3 linked regions of the Homo sapiens genome follow. The protein of the gene in region 3 purifies or fractionates together with the protein of the main gene of each other region. This does not show direct contact. Each region holds a gene or a part of one and is shown on either strand. Other genes may lie near its edges.

Region 1 (3,653 bases), on a different chromosome or scaffold from region 3:
TTACTGATGCTCAATACCTCATCTTTGGCCAGGGAAAGCCTCTTTGAGTTGGCCTCTGAGTCCTTTTGACCAATCTATTAAGTGTCTGATTGCTTCCTTGCTTTCTGGCATAATAAGACATTCCAGGCTCACCTTCCTCCCCCAGACATGGAGCCCTCATTCCCTTCATTGGGAAATGGTACATGAAGACCACAGATGGGTACTTGGGACCCTTGAACTTTTGGTGTGCATACTTGAACAATACAGCCTAAAGTTCGTATCTTTTTGCCAATCAATACATAGATATTAAGATGCTTTTATTCTGTTTTCCCTGTTTTTGTCTTCTGTGTTATTCTAATATGTGACCTCCACTCAATTAGTCATCATTATTTTTTATGGTAGATTTTTTTTATTGTAGTAAAAAACATAAAATTTTCCATTTCACCCTTTGTAAATATAAGTTCAGTTGTGTTAAGTATATGCACATTGTTGTGGAACAGAGCCCCAGAACTTTTTCATTTTCAAAGCTGAAACTCTGTACCCATTAAATGACTACCTGTTCCCCAGTCCCGGCACCCACCATTCTCCTTGCACCCACCATTCTCCTTTTGGTTTCTATGAATGGGACTACTCTGGATACCTAATAGAAGTGGAATTAGACAACATTTGTCATTTTTACATCTGGTTCATTTCACTCAGCATAATGTCCTCAGGGTTCATCCATTTGGTAGCATGTGGCAGAAATTTCTTTTTTTTTTTTTAAGGCTGAAAAATATTCCATTGTATGTATATACCACATGTTATTTATCCATGCAGCTGTCCATGGACACTTGCATTGCTTCCATCTTTTGGCTATTGTGAATAGTGCTGCTGGGAATGTGCTGTGCAAATATATCTTCAAGACTCTGTTTTTAATTATTTTGGGTATATACCCAGAAGTGGGGTTGCTGGATCATATGGTAATTCTATTTTAAATTTTTTTGAGGAATCTCCATACTGTTTTTCGCTATGAGTATACCATTTTACATTTTCGCCAGCACTAGGGTTCCAGTGTTTCCACATCCTCATAAACACTTGTTCTTTTCTGTTTTTTTAAACAGTGGCCATCCTGAGAGAAGTGAGGTATTTGGTTGGTGCAAAAGTAATTGCGGTTTTTGCCATTGAAAGTAATGACAAAACCCGCAATTACCTTTGCACCAACCTAAATGGTCTCATTGTGGTTTTGATTTGCATTTTCCCTGATGATTGGTGATGTTGAGCATTAGTCATTATTATTAACAGTCAATGCTTACTATATTTTATCAACATACTTATTAGTTTCTTTGCCAGATTCACCACTTGTTAGAATTTTTTCAAACCATTTGAGAAAAAGTTGAAGACATTATTTCCTTTTGCCCCTACCCCCAAATACATTAGTTTGTGTTTCCTCAGAACAAGAATATTCTTTTAGATAACCACAATGGAATGGTCAAAATCAGGAATTAGCACTGCTACAAAACTATTATCTGATTACCTACCTTATTTCAATTTCACCATGGTTCCAATAATGTCCTTTATAGCCTTCTTCCCTCCCATGCCGGGATATAATCCATGGTCATGCATCACATTATTTGTCTTGTCTCTTTAGTCTCCTTTAATCTGGAATAGTTCCTCGGCCTTTCTTTGCATTTAATGACCTTGACTTATTTGAAAAATGAAAGGAATAAATGTGCATAAAAACTGATGGGCTATACAGAGACTACATATTCAGAAAAAGACAGGGAGAAAAGTGCTGGCAGTCTCTTGTGGAAAGTTTTACACGATGGAACTACAGGAGTTCCAGGAGTTCAGCCCTCAAGATCTAGAGAAAGTGATGCAGGCTCAGTGGCTTCTATTTTACCTAGATGTCACAGGTAACATAGAAGAAACTGGAAAGAAGTCTAAGAAGGAAACATGAGAGGAGGAAGAAAGATAAAACAGGAAATCCAGAGGTGGTGTTTTTGAGTTCTAGAAGGCAAAAGAAATCCTTACTGTAGAGATGCAAGGATCTGATCCTTTGTCTAGCACAACAGAGAGAAGTGCTAGAGGATAAGGACAAGGAGGAGAAATATGTGGATCATCCTTTAGTGAAAATCCTGAAATAGAGCTTCCATGCAAAGGGCTGGATCATCAAGATCTGGATAAAGAAGCAGCGTTGACACAGTGATGAGGCGCCAGTCCTTTGCCTGAGGCTGCAGAGTTTCTCAGTGCATGCCACACACGTGCTTACAAGATGTTCCAGGCTGCATGGGACTTTCCTTGCCCCAGCCCCCAATTTAGCCATTTCTGCAAGGAGTCCTGCTTCCTTTTAATGAGGAAAGGTATTTAGAAACTAAGATCTGGGCCCCAGGTGTGCTCATGGCTACTGGGGTGTCACTGCTTCTAGGCCCTTCTAGAAGAACTGAGCAATATGGATCTTTATTTCTGTCTCTCTCTAGGGCATAGATATACATATATCATGTATAATGCATGTACACATATTAAAAGTACAAATTCAGTATTTCCAATTCTAATCCATCACCACTGGATGATGTCCTCCTGTGCTTACTGCTACAAACTTTAGATCTGTAGTCCATCTGGAATTAGTTTTGGTAAATGATGTCAGGTATGAATCAAGGAACTTTTTTTGTTTTCCATGGGATATCCAGTTGTCCCAGCACCTGTGATTGAATAAGTACTTTACTTATTCACAGTAAGGTAGGGTGTCAGGACCATTGCCCATGTTTTTAAATAGGGAAACTGAGGCTCAGAGAGGTACTTCTTTTTTTTTTTTTTTGCTGACATCACAGAGAGCTGACAAATGGCAGAAGCAAGATTTGAACCAATGTATTTATTTATTTTTGTCACCCAGGCTGGAGTACAGTGGCACAATGTCAGCTTACTGCAGCCTCAACTGCCCAGGCTCACGTGATCCTCCCACCTCAGCCTCCCAAGGAGCTGGGACCACAGATGTGCACCACCATACTTGGTTAATTTTTTTGCATTTTTTGTAGAGACGGAGTTTGCCGTGTTGTCTGTGCAGGAGTTGGAACTCCTGGGCCCAAGTGATCCACCTCCCTTGGCCTCCCAAATGTTGGGATTACATGAACCAGTGCACCTGGCCAGAACCCAGATTTATTTGATTCCAAAGTCAGGGCTTTTCCCCCTTGCCACGGACATTCAGTTTTCCTGTCTACATAATAAGTGGTATGAAATCTGCAGTCATCAGATCCTCCCACACTGACATTGTGGGTCTCTGGGCTTAAGCCAGGCAGACATATGTACCCAGGAAAACATGGGGTGTGCAAACACAGCAGAGCACAGAGCCACAGCACAGAGGGCAGGCACTTCATGTGGCAGGAGAGTGCTTGTTTTGTAACCAGGGGTCTGTGGGTCATGGTGCATGGACCCTTGCTCTGGCAGGGGCGGGCATGCACTCCTTCTCCCCCCATACTCAATCAGTGAATAAAGTAAGAACCATCACAGAACTAGGGGTTTCCATCTGCTCTATGGCCATCTCCAGGTACCCATCTTCTCCCACATTTAAAACTCAGTTGGCTGGCTATTAGACCAGTGAGTGCCAAGGCTTGAGCCTGAGCCTGGCATTTGCCATGGTAACAAAGAACAGAGGCCCAGCATTTCAATCCCTCTGGTAGCCTTTAGGTTGGCATGACAAC
Region 2 (3,653 bases), on a different chromosome or scaffold from region 3:
ATTAGTCAACAATATGCTGTTGACTGCAGAGGTAAAATACTAGATGATACGGCTTGAAAATAAGCTTTTTCTCTCATTCTCATAAAATATAATCTTTCTTATGGGTTAAAGTTATTGAGAAATGGGAAAATAGTCAAGTAATTCTAGAGTTGAGTTGGCTACCTAAATTATTTGATTATTACCTTTGAACAAGTTACCTGACATTTTCAGTTCTAGTTTTTCTGTTTATAAAAAGGAGTGATTCTTGCCTACTCATTATTTTACTTTGGCCTTTTGAAATTTGCTTAAATAATATCTGTAAAACACTTTAATGGTATTTAGACATGTATTGTGTGAATAAAAAATATTTTTATAACGTACCATCATTACATTTTTGTGGATAGCAGCTAAGAAAAACAAACCGCTACATGTGTGACTTATGAAATTAGCTTATAAAAAATTGCCTTGGCAAAAAATAACTTTCTTTATCCTTTTCCTCTTTGGTATTCTAAAGTTTAGTGACTGTTCTTTTGTTCCTAGCTGTATCTTCAGTGGTGTGATGAAGCTACAGTAGGGGAGGTGAGTGGTTCTGTAACATTTATCTTAATTAAAATTTAATGAGAAAACACTTTTGCTCAGAATCGCAAGTCCCTGCTCATAAATGAAACATTGTGGTTTATACCATTAGTGATATAGTTTTTCACTTACTTTAATTTTGCTTGCACATAACATTTTAGGGAAGCTATGTGTCATTGTTTGATATAACGGGTTGCAAAGTACATAAAAGTTTATATATTTTTAAAGGGAATGGCTTAAAATTTTAATTTTTTAGATTGCAGGATGTGTATTTTTTTCAGATTGCTCTATTTATGTTCTCTGAAAATATATTTCTTTTAGAATTCTATTTGTAAAAACGGGCATTGTTTTTAGGAAGGATCACCTTTTTTACAAAATCTTTTTACTTTAGATCACTCATGCTAGGTATGGATCTCCTTACCCTTGGCCTCTGAATCATATTTTGGCCTATCAAAAACAGTGGGAAGTCAAACGTAAGATGAAAGCTATTGGATGGGGAAAGAAGACTCTGGACCAGGTCAGTTCAGGTTGAAGTTGACAAAACCCTCAACTTTTATGCATTAAAAGAATCATTCTTTATATTGATACTCCTTTAAAAAAATATATATAAGATTTGCAAGAAAACCATTTCCTGTGATTTTCACTAACATGAAGTAATTTTATTTCTAAAAAATCATACATGCTTGATGTAAAGCAAACAATGCAATGCAGATATGTGTAAAAAAGCAATAAAACTTGCCTGAAATCTCATCACCTAGAAAATACCACCCTTAACTATTTGGAGAGCCTTCTTCTAGATGTTTCTTAGTAACATTTTCTCAAATGGGATCATTATGCCTGCTACTGTATAACCTGAGGGTTTTTTTTTTTTTTTAATTGAACAATACATTGTGGGCACCTTTTATGTAACTAAATATAGATCTGCAGCATCAGGGCTTAAAAAAAAAGCCCTGTTAAATACAGTACTTTGTCCGTCTGTCTGTCTATCTATCTGTCTATCTGTCTATCTATCTGTCTATCTATATTTTTGCTACTAAAGTAGCAAAACTTAAAAATACTTATCTTGTCCACAAGCATCATTAAGTTAATTAATGCCCGTCTTTTCCAAGGCTACCCTTAATACTAGCCAGCCATCTCACTGATGTGTGCCATTGGCTACAAGGGGGTTTCAGTAAATGAATAGGGATAGAATAAATAAAAATCTATCTCCACTAGTGGGAAAATAACTCAAATGCTTTTACTCATAGTGGGTCAATGTTGTTACCTTTATTAAGCAGATTTTTTGGTATATGCAAAGCCATTTGAATATATGGATTCAGGAAGACACTTTTGTTCTTGACAAAATCCTTATAAGTAACTTAAATGTACTTGTATTTTGAAGGACATTCACTGAGAATTTCTTCCTATTTCTTGTATACAAAGTATTATATATATATACTTATATAGAAAGTATTTCTTATAAGTATTTCTTATATAGAAAGTATTTCTTATAAGTATTTCTTATATAGAAAGTATTATATATATATGTGGTCTATGGTCTTATTAAAATATATTATAAAAGGTTAACTTAAATTTATATTTTTGTTATAAACTGTGATACAAGTTACGTTTTAGATACTTTTTATTGTTTTGCTAATTGAAATACTTTTCCTTGGGGTTCATTGCCTGTGTTAGGTCTTAGAGGATGTAGACCAGTGCTGTCAAGCTCTCTCTCAAAGACTGGGAACACAACCGTATTTCTTCAATAAGCAGTAAGAAATTTTACTTTTTTAAAGTTAATTTTCTGTACTGTTAGGTTGCAAATTTCTTTTTTTCATAAAAGAATTGCTTTTTCAAGAAAATATTTAGCTATTTTTATAATTTTTGTACTCAAATATTTTTGTGGCACTTTACTCTCAGGCACAGTGCTAGGCTCTAGGAGACTAAGATTTCTAAAATATGGTCCTTATCATTAAGAATTTCTCTTAAAGGCAGTCATGTAAATCAATCATTGTATGATAAGGTTTTAATGAGGTAGTTCAAGGTGCTATACATGGAACTACAAAATCTTAACAAAATTCTAAACTTGTACTATTAAACATGAAGGAAAGTAAGTTACTATTAATGTAACTATGGTTTTCTATATAGAATGATAGCTGGAGGATTAGAAGAGTCAATAAAACTAAATATTAAAAAATATTGTTTGATGGACAAGCACTATTATGAACTTATCTTTTAAAATGTTAATGAAAATATTTGTAAAACACAGAAATTAATATAAAGGATATAGGTTAAATATATGTGTATATATGTAAGTTGAATAATGTTTCATTAATAGATTTGCTTTTGCAGTTTTGAAAAGACTCTAATGAAGGCAAAGAATGAATTTTCCGTTGTTAAAAAATTACAATTTTAATATATCAGAATCAGCTGTCCTGTGATCCAGTGTAAGATGGGCTTAAAGCATTTTAATCTCAAAACTTTCCCTAGAAAGTCTGACCTTTTCTTGACATTTTAATAAAAATTATTTGATTTTTAGATTAATAATTTCTAAAAGGCTTTATTTGCTATTATGTGTTATATCGTCATAAGCATTCCTCTTCTATAACCATATCAAACATATTTGGGTAAAGATAATATTTGTAGTAAAAATGGCTATGATGATAGTTTGGAAATATTTAAGTTATATTAATCTATAACACAAGTAATATATACATATATAATTGATATTAAAATCTGGGTTCTGTTGATCTTTGAAGCAGAAAAATCTTCAGAATTCAAACTGTGAAATTCTGGTGGGTAAAGCTTCTACAACTCTGTTCCTGTTTCTAGTGATGTTTGCTCTACAGATTCTATTTTTCAGTCCCTAACACAAGAGAAATGTATCCAAATGTCAATATTACGTGATTTCTTTTCTTTCTAACAGAGGAATTCTTAGGAATTGAAAAGCTCAGAAGGGGTGTGTTTTATTGAAATGCATTATTCTATTTTAGTTTTGTTATGCACACTGTCTTTAGAGGAGGCCAGGAGAATAGATCTAACTTACTTTTCTTCTCAGTTAAACTCATTGTCATTGTGTTAGTAACCAGAGTTTGGCATGTGACTCAGTGGAAATATCA
Region 3 (3,753 bases):
CTGGGCTGGGCCAGAAGGAGTCCCTGCTTCATCCAGTATGAGGCTTAGGGTATCACCGACTGAGACAAGGGTCAAAGGAAAGGCGAGGAAGGTGAGGTTGGCACTGCCGTCCAGGCACAGCCACCCTAACCCTAACCTGTCCTCTCCCTCTTTGGAGGTGCAGGGCCTGAAGGCCAGGAGGAGTCAACTCCGCAATCAGATGTTACAGAGGATGGTGAGAGCCCTGAAGATCCCTCAGGGACAGGTATGGCGCAGCCACCACACTCTCTCCTTCCTGACTCCTTGGCTTTCTCCTTCAGTGTCTGGGTCTGACCCCTGCATTCCCCTTTTGGCTGCAGAGGGTCAGCTGTCCGAGGAGGAGAAACCAGATCAGCAGCCCCTGAGCGGAGAAGAGGAGCTAGAGCCTGAGGCCAGTGATGGTGAGGGGCATCCTGCAGCGTGACCTGGGTGGGGCCCCCGGTTAATCTAATATCCCATTTGAGATTTTGTTTTTCCCTTTCCTGGCCCAGGTTCAGGCTCCTGGGAAGATGCAGCTTTGCTGACGGAGGCCAACCTGCCTGCTCCTGCTCCTGCTTCTGCTTCTGCCCCTGTCCTAGAGACTCTGGGCAGCTCTGAACCTGCTGGGGGTGCTCTCCGACAGCGCCCCACCTGCTCTAGTTCCTGAAGAAAAGGGGCAGACTCCTCACATTCCAGCACTTTCCCACCTGACTCCTCTCCCCTCGTTTTTCCTTCAATAAACTATTTTGTGTCAGCTTCTTCCTTGACTCTGAAATGGGTTCAGGGCCATTTGAACACCCTGTGTCCCCCATGCATCTCTCACTTTCCGCCATTAGAGGGGAGGTCTTCTTGTCCAGGGGAAGGCCTCCAGACCTGGGCTATTTTAAGCACAGATGTTTCCATTCATAAGCCTAGGAAGTCCAAGGAGGGAGAAGCTATCCTGGCCCCTAGCAAGCTTTCCCACTCCCTGCATGTGACTTTCATCTCCCCCAGAGGAGGGGGATGGTGTAGGGCAGGTCTGCAGAGCTGGGAGACATCATTCTGGCCCCCTCTACACCCCTCCCTTCCTCCCTTCCTCCCTTTCTCTGTCCATTGGGAGGCAGAAGACAGGAAATGACTGCCATGGATGTGGTAGGATTTTTACCAAAACAGCATTTTGCGGCTCAGGCCCGTGCTGTTCGCAGCTGTTTTCCTCTAATATCAGCCAGGTGGCCGCCTTCTATGTTCCCCTCCCCATCCCGTTGTATGACTTCAGCCTTCGGATTCTAAGCTCCTGGCTGCTTTCCACATTCCACTCCCCTTCCAGAACCCAGGCATCCTGGGCTCCAGCTGAAACCATTGCATGTGGCTTTCCCCATCCCTGGCCCCGTGACTCAGTCCCTCTGAAGGGAGCAGCCCTCTTTTTTGGCAATCACCAGGGAGGTGGGGGGAGGAGGAGGGGAGCTAGGTGGTGACATCACAGTCGAAGGTTATAAAAGCTTCCAGCCAAACGGCATTGAAGTTGAAGATACAACCTGACAGCACAGCCTGAGATCTTGGGGATCCCTCAGCCTAACACCCACAGACGTCAGCTGGTGGATTCCCGCTGCATCAAGGCCTACCCACTGGTGAGGAGCTGCTATGGGCCAGAGAGGAGGAGGGAGGCATGCAGGGGCCAGGACTCCTTGGACAGGATTTGCACAGATAGCAGGTGGGGAGGGAGGATTCCAGCGTCCCTATTTTTTTCTCTTGTTTTCAAAAAATACAGCTGTGCTTACAATATTTCTCCATTCTGTTCTCTTTTCTCAACTCTGTCTCCTTTCTGGGTTTTTGCCTGTGTCACTGACGGATACATGTTTTTGTTGAGTTGAGGTCTCACTCTTGTCACCCAGGCTGGAGTGTTGTGGGGCGATCATGGTTCACTGCAGCCTTGAACTCCTGGGCTCAAGTGATCCTCCTGAGTAGCAGGGACCACAGGCATGTGCAGTATATTTTTAATGTTTTTTAACTTTTTAATAATTTTTAAATACTTTTTAATTTTTGTAGAGATGGGGTCTCTCTGTGTTGCCCCAGCTGGTTTGGAATCCTGGCCTCAAGCAATCCTCTTGCCTTGACTTCCCCAAAGTGTTGGGATTATAGGCATCAGCCTAGGGGCCCGGCTTTGTTACTTGTTTTGCTTAGATCTTTTCTCTGGGTGGCAGCTAGTAAATATCCTACCGTTCTTCCCTGGGCTAAGTAAATCATGTCCTCCTCTTCTCTCCCTCAGCACTTTGTTTATTCATTAACTGTTTCTAATACTTAACACATGCTGATCATGCATCTGTCTCATGTGTCAGATCATGTTTTATTTTTTGTCTGAAACCAAGCACACAGCCTGGACTCAGAAGTTGGTTGACAAATGAGTGTGTCTGCCTCATTCCAACTTCTTTCCTCTTCTGATCCCCAGTTGCATTTTCCTGTCTCCAGAGATTGTGTCCAGGCAGAGGGCATGGCAGGCTTTTGGGCTGAACAGGCTTTATCTATCCACCCCTTCCCTTCCAGTCTCCATGCTGGGCTCTCCCTGCCTTCTGTGGCTCCTGGCCGTGACCTTCTTGGTTCCCAGAGCTCAGCCCTTGGCCCCTCAAGACTTTGAAGAAGAGGAGGCAGATGAGACTGAGACGGCGTGGCCGCCTTTGCCGGCTGTCCCCTGCGACTACGACCACTGCCGACACCTGCAGGTGCCCTGCAAGGAGCTACAGAGGGTCGGGCCGGCGGCCTGCCTGTGCCCAGGACTCTCCAGCCCCGCCCAGCCGCCCGACCCGCCGCGCATGGGAGAAGTGCGCATTGCGGCCGAAGAGGGCCGCGCAGTGGTCCACTGGTGTGCCCCCTTCTCCCCGGTCCTCCACTACTGGCTGCTGCTTTGGGACGGCAGCGAGGCTGCGCAGAAGGGGCCCCCGCTGAACGCTACGGTCCGCAGAGCCGAACTGAAGGGGCTGAAGCCAGGGGGCATTTATGTCGTTTGCGTAGTGGCCGCTAACGAGGCCGGGGCAAGCCGCGTGCCCCAGGCTGGAGGAGAGGGCCTCGAGGGGGCCGACATCCCTGCCTTCGGGCCTTGCAGCCGCCTTGCGGTGCCGCCCAACCCCCGCACTCTGGTCCACGCGGCCGTCGGGGTGGGCACGGCCCTGGCCCTGCTAAGCTGTGCCGCCCTGGTGTGGCACTTCTGCCTGCGCGATCGCTGGGGCTGCCCGCGCCGAGCCGCCGCCCGAGCCGCAGGGGCGCTCTGAAAGGGGCCTGGGGGCATCTCGGGCACAGACAGCCCCACCTGGGGCGCTCAGCCTGGCCCCCGGGAAAGAGGAAAACCCGCTGCCTCCAGGGAGGGCTGGACGGCGAGCTGGGAGCCAGCCCCAGGCTCCAGGGCCACGGCGGAGTCATGGTTCTCAGGACTGAGCGCTTGTTTAGGTCCGGTACTTGGCGCTTTGTTTCCTGGCTGAGGTCTGGGAAGGAATAGAAAGGGGCCCCCAATTTTTTTTTAAGCGGCCAGATAATAAATAATGTAACCTTTGCGGTTTAAGAGGATAAAATGGAGGATATTATTATGTGGGTATTTATATGACCTTTGTAACCATTTAAAAATGTAAAAACGACCTGACTTAGTAATGCGAACCTATAGTAGCAGCTACTCCAGAGGCTGAAATGGGAGGATCTCTTGAGCCCAGGAGTTGGAGTCCAGTCCAGCCAGGGCAACACAGCCAGACGCCCTTGTTTTTTATTTTGTTTTGTTTTGGTTTTTTGTTTTTT

Evidence for each region.
Region 1: the proteins of LRRN4CL (region 3) and PODXL2 purify together in Homo sapiens (affinity purification with mass spectrometry; one large-scale study listed by BioGRID and IntAct). This does not show direct contact.
Region 2: the proteins of LRRN4CL (region 3) and MTX2 purify together in Homo sapiens (affinity purification with mass spectrometry; one large-scale study listed by BioGRID and IntAct). This does not show direct contact.

What each region holds. Positions count from the first base shown.
Region 1 is NC_000003.12:127,663,605-127,667,257, forward strand, and holds part of PODXL2 (podocalyxin-like protein 2 precursor), read left to right. Parts: intron 1-3,653. UniProt on the Homo sapiens protein: Acts as a ligand for vascular selectins. Mediates rapid rolling of leukocytes over vascular surfaces through high affinity divalent cation-dependent interactions with E-, P- and L-selectins.
Region 2 is NC_000002.12:176,328,355-176,332,007, forward strand, and holds part of MTX2 (metaxin-2), read left to right. Parts: coding exon 1-31; intron 32-519; coding exon 520-558; intron 559-946; coding exon 947-1,072; intron 1,073-2,229; coding exon 2,230-2,306; intron 2,307-3,653. UniProt on the Homo sapiens protein: Involved in transport of proteins into the mitochondrion.
Region 3 is NC_000011.10:62,687,278-62,691,030, reverse strand, and holds the start of LRRN4CL (LRRN4 C-terminal-like protein precursor), read left to right. Parts: upstream 1-1,500; 5' UTR 1,501-1,604; intron 1,605-2,517; 5' UTR 2,518-2,522; coding exon 2,523-3,239; 3' UTR 3,240-3,753. Other genes in the region: BSCL2 (seipin), read left to right, coding at 158-244, 339-419, 510-664.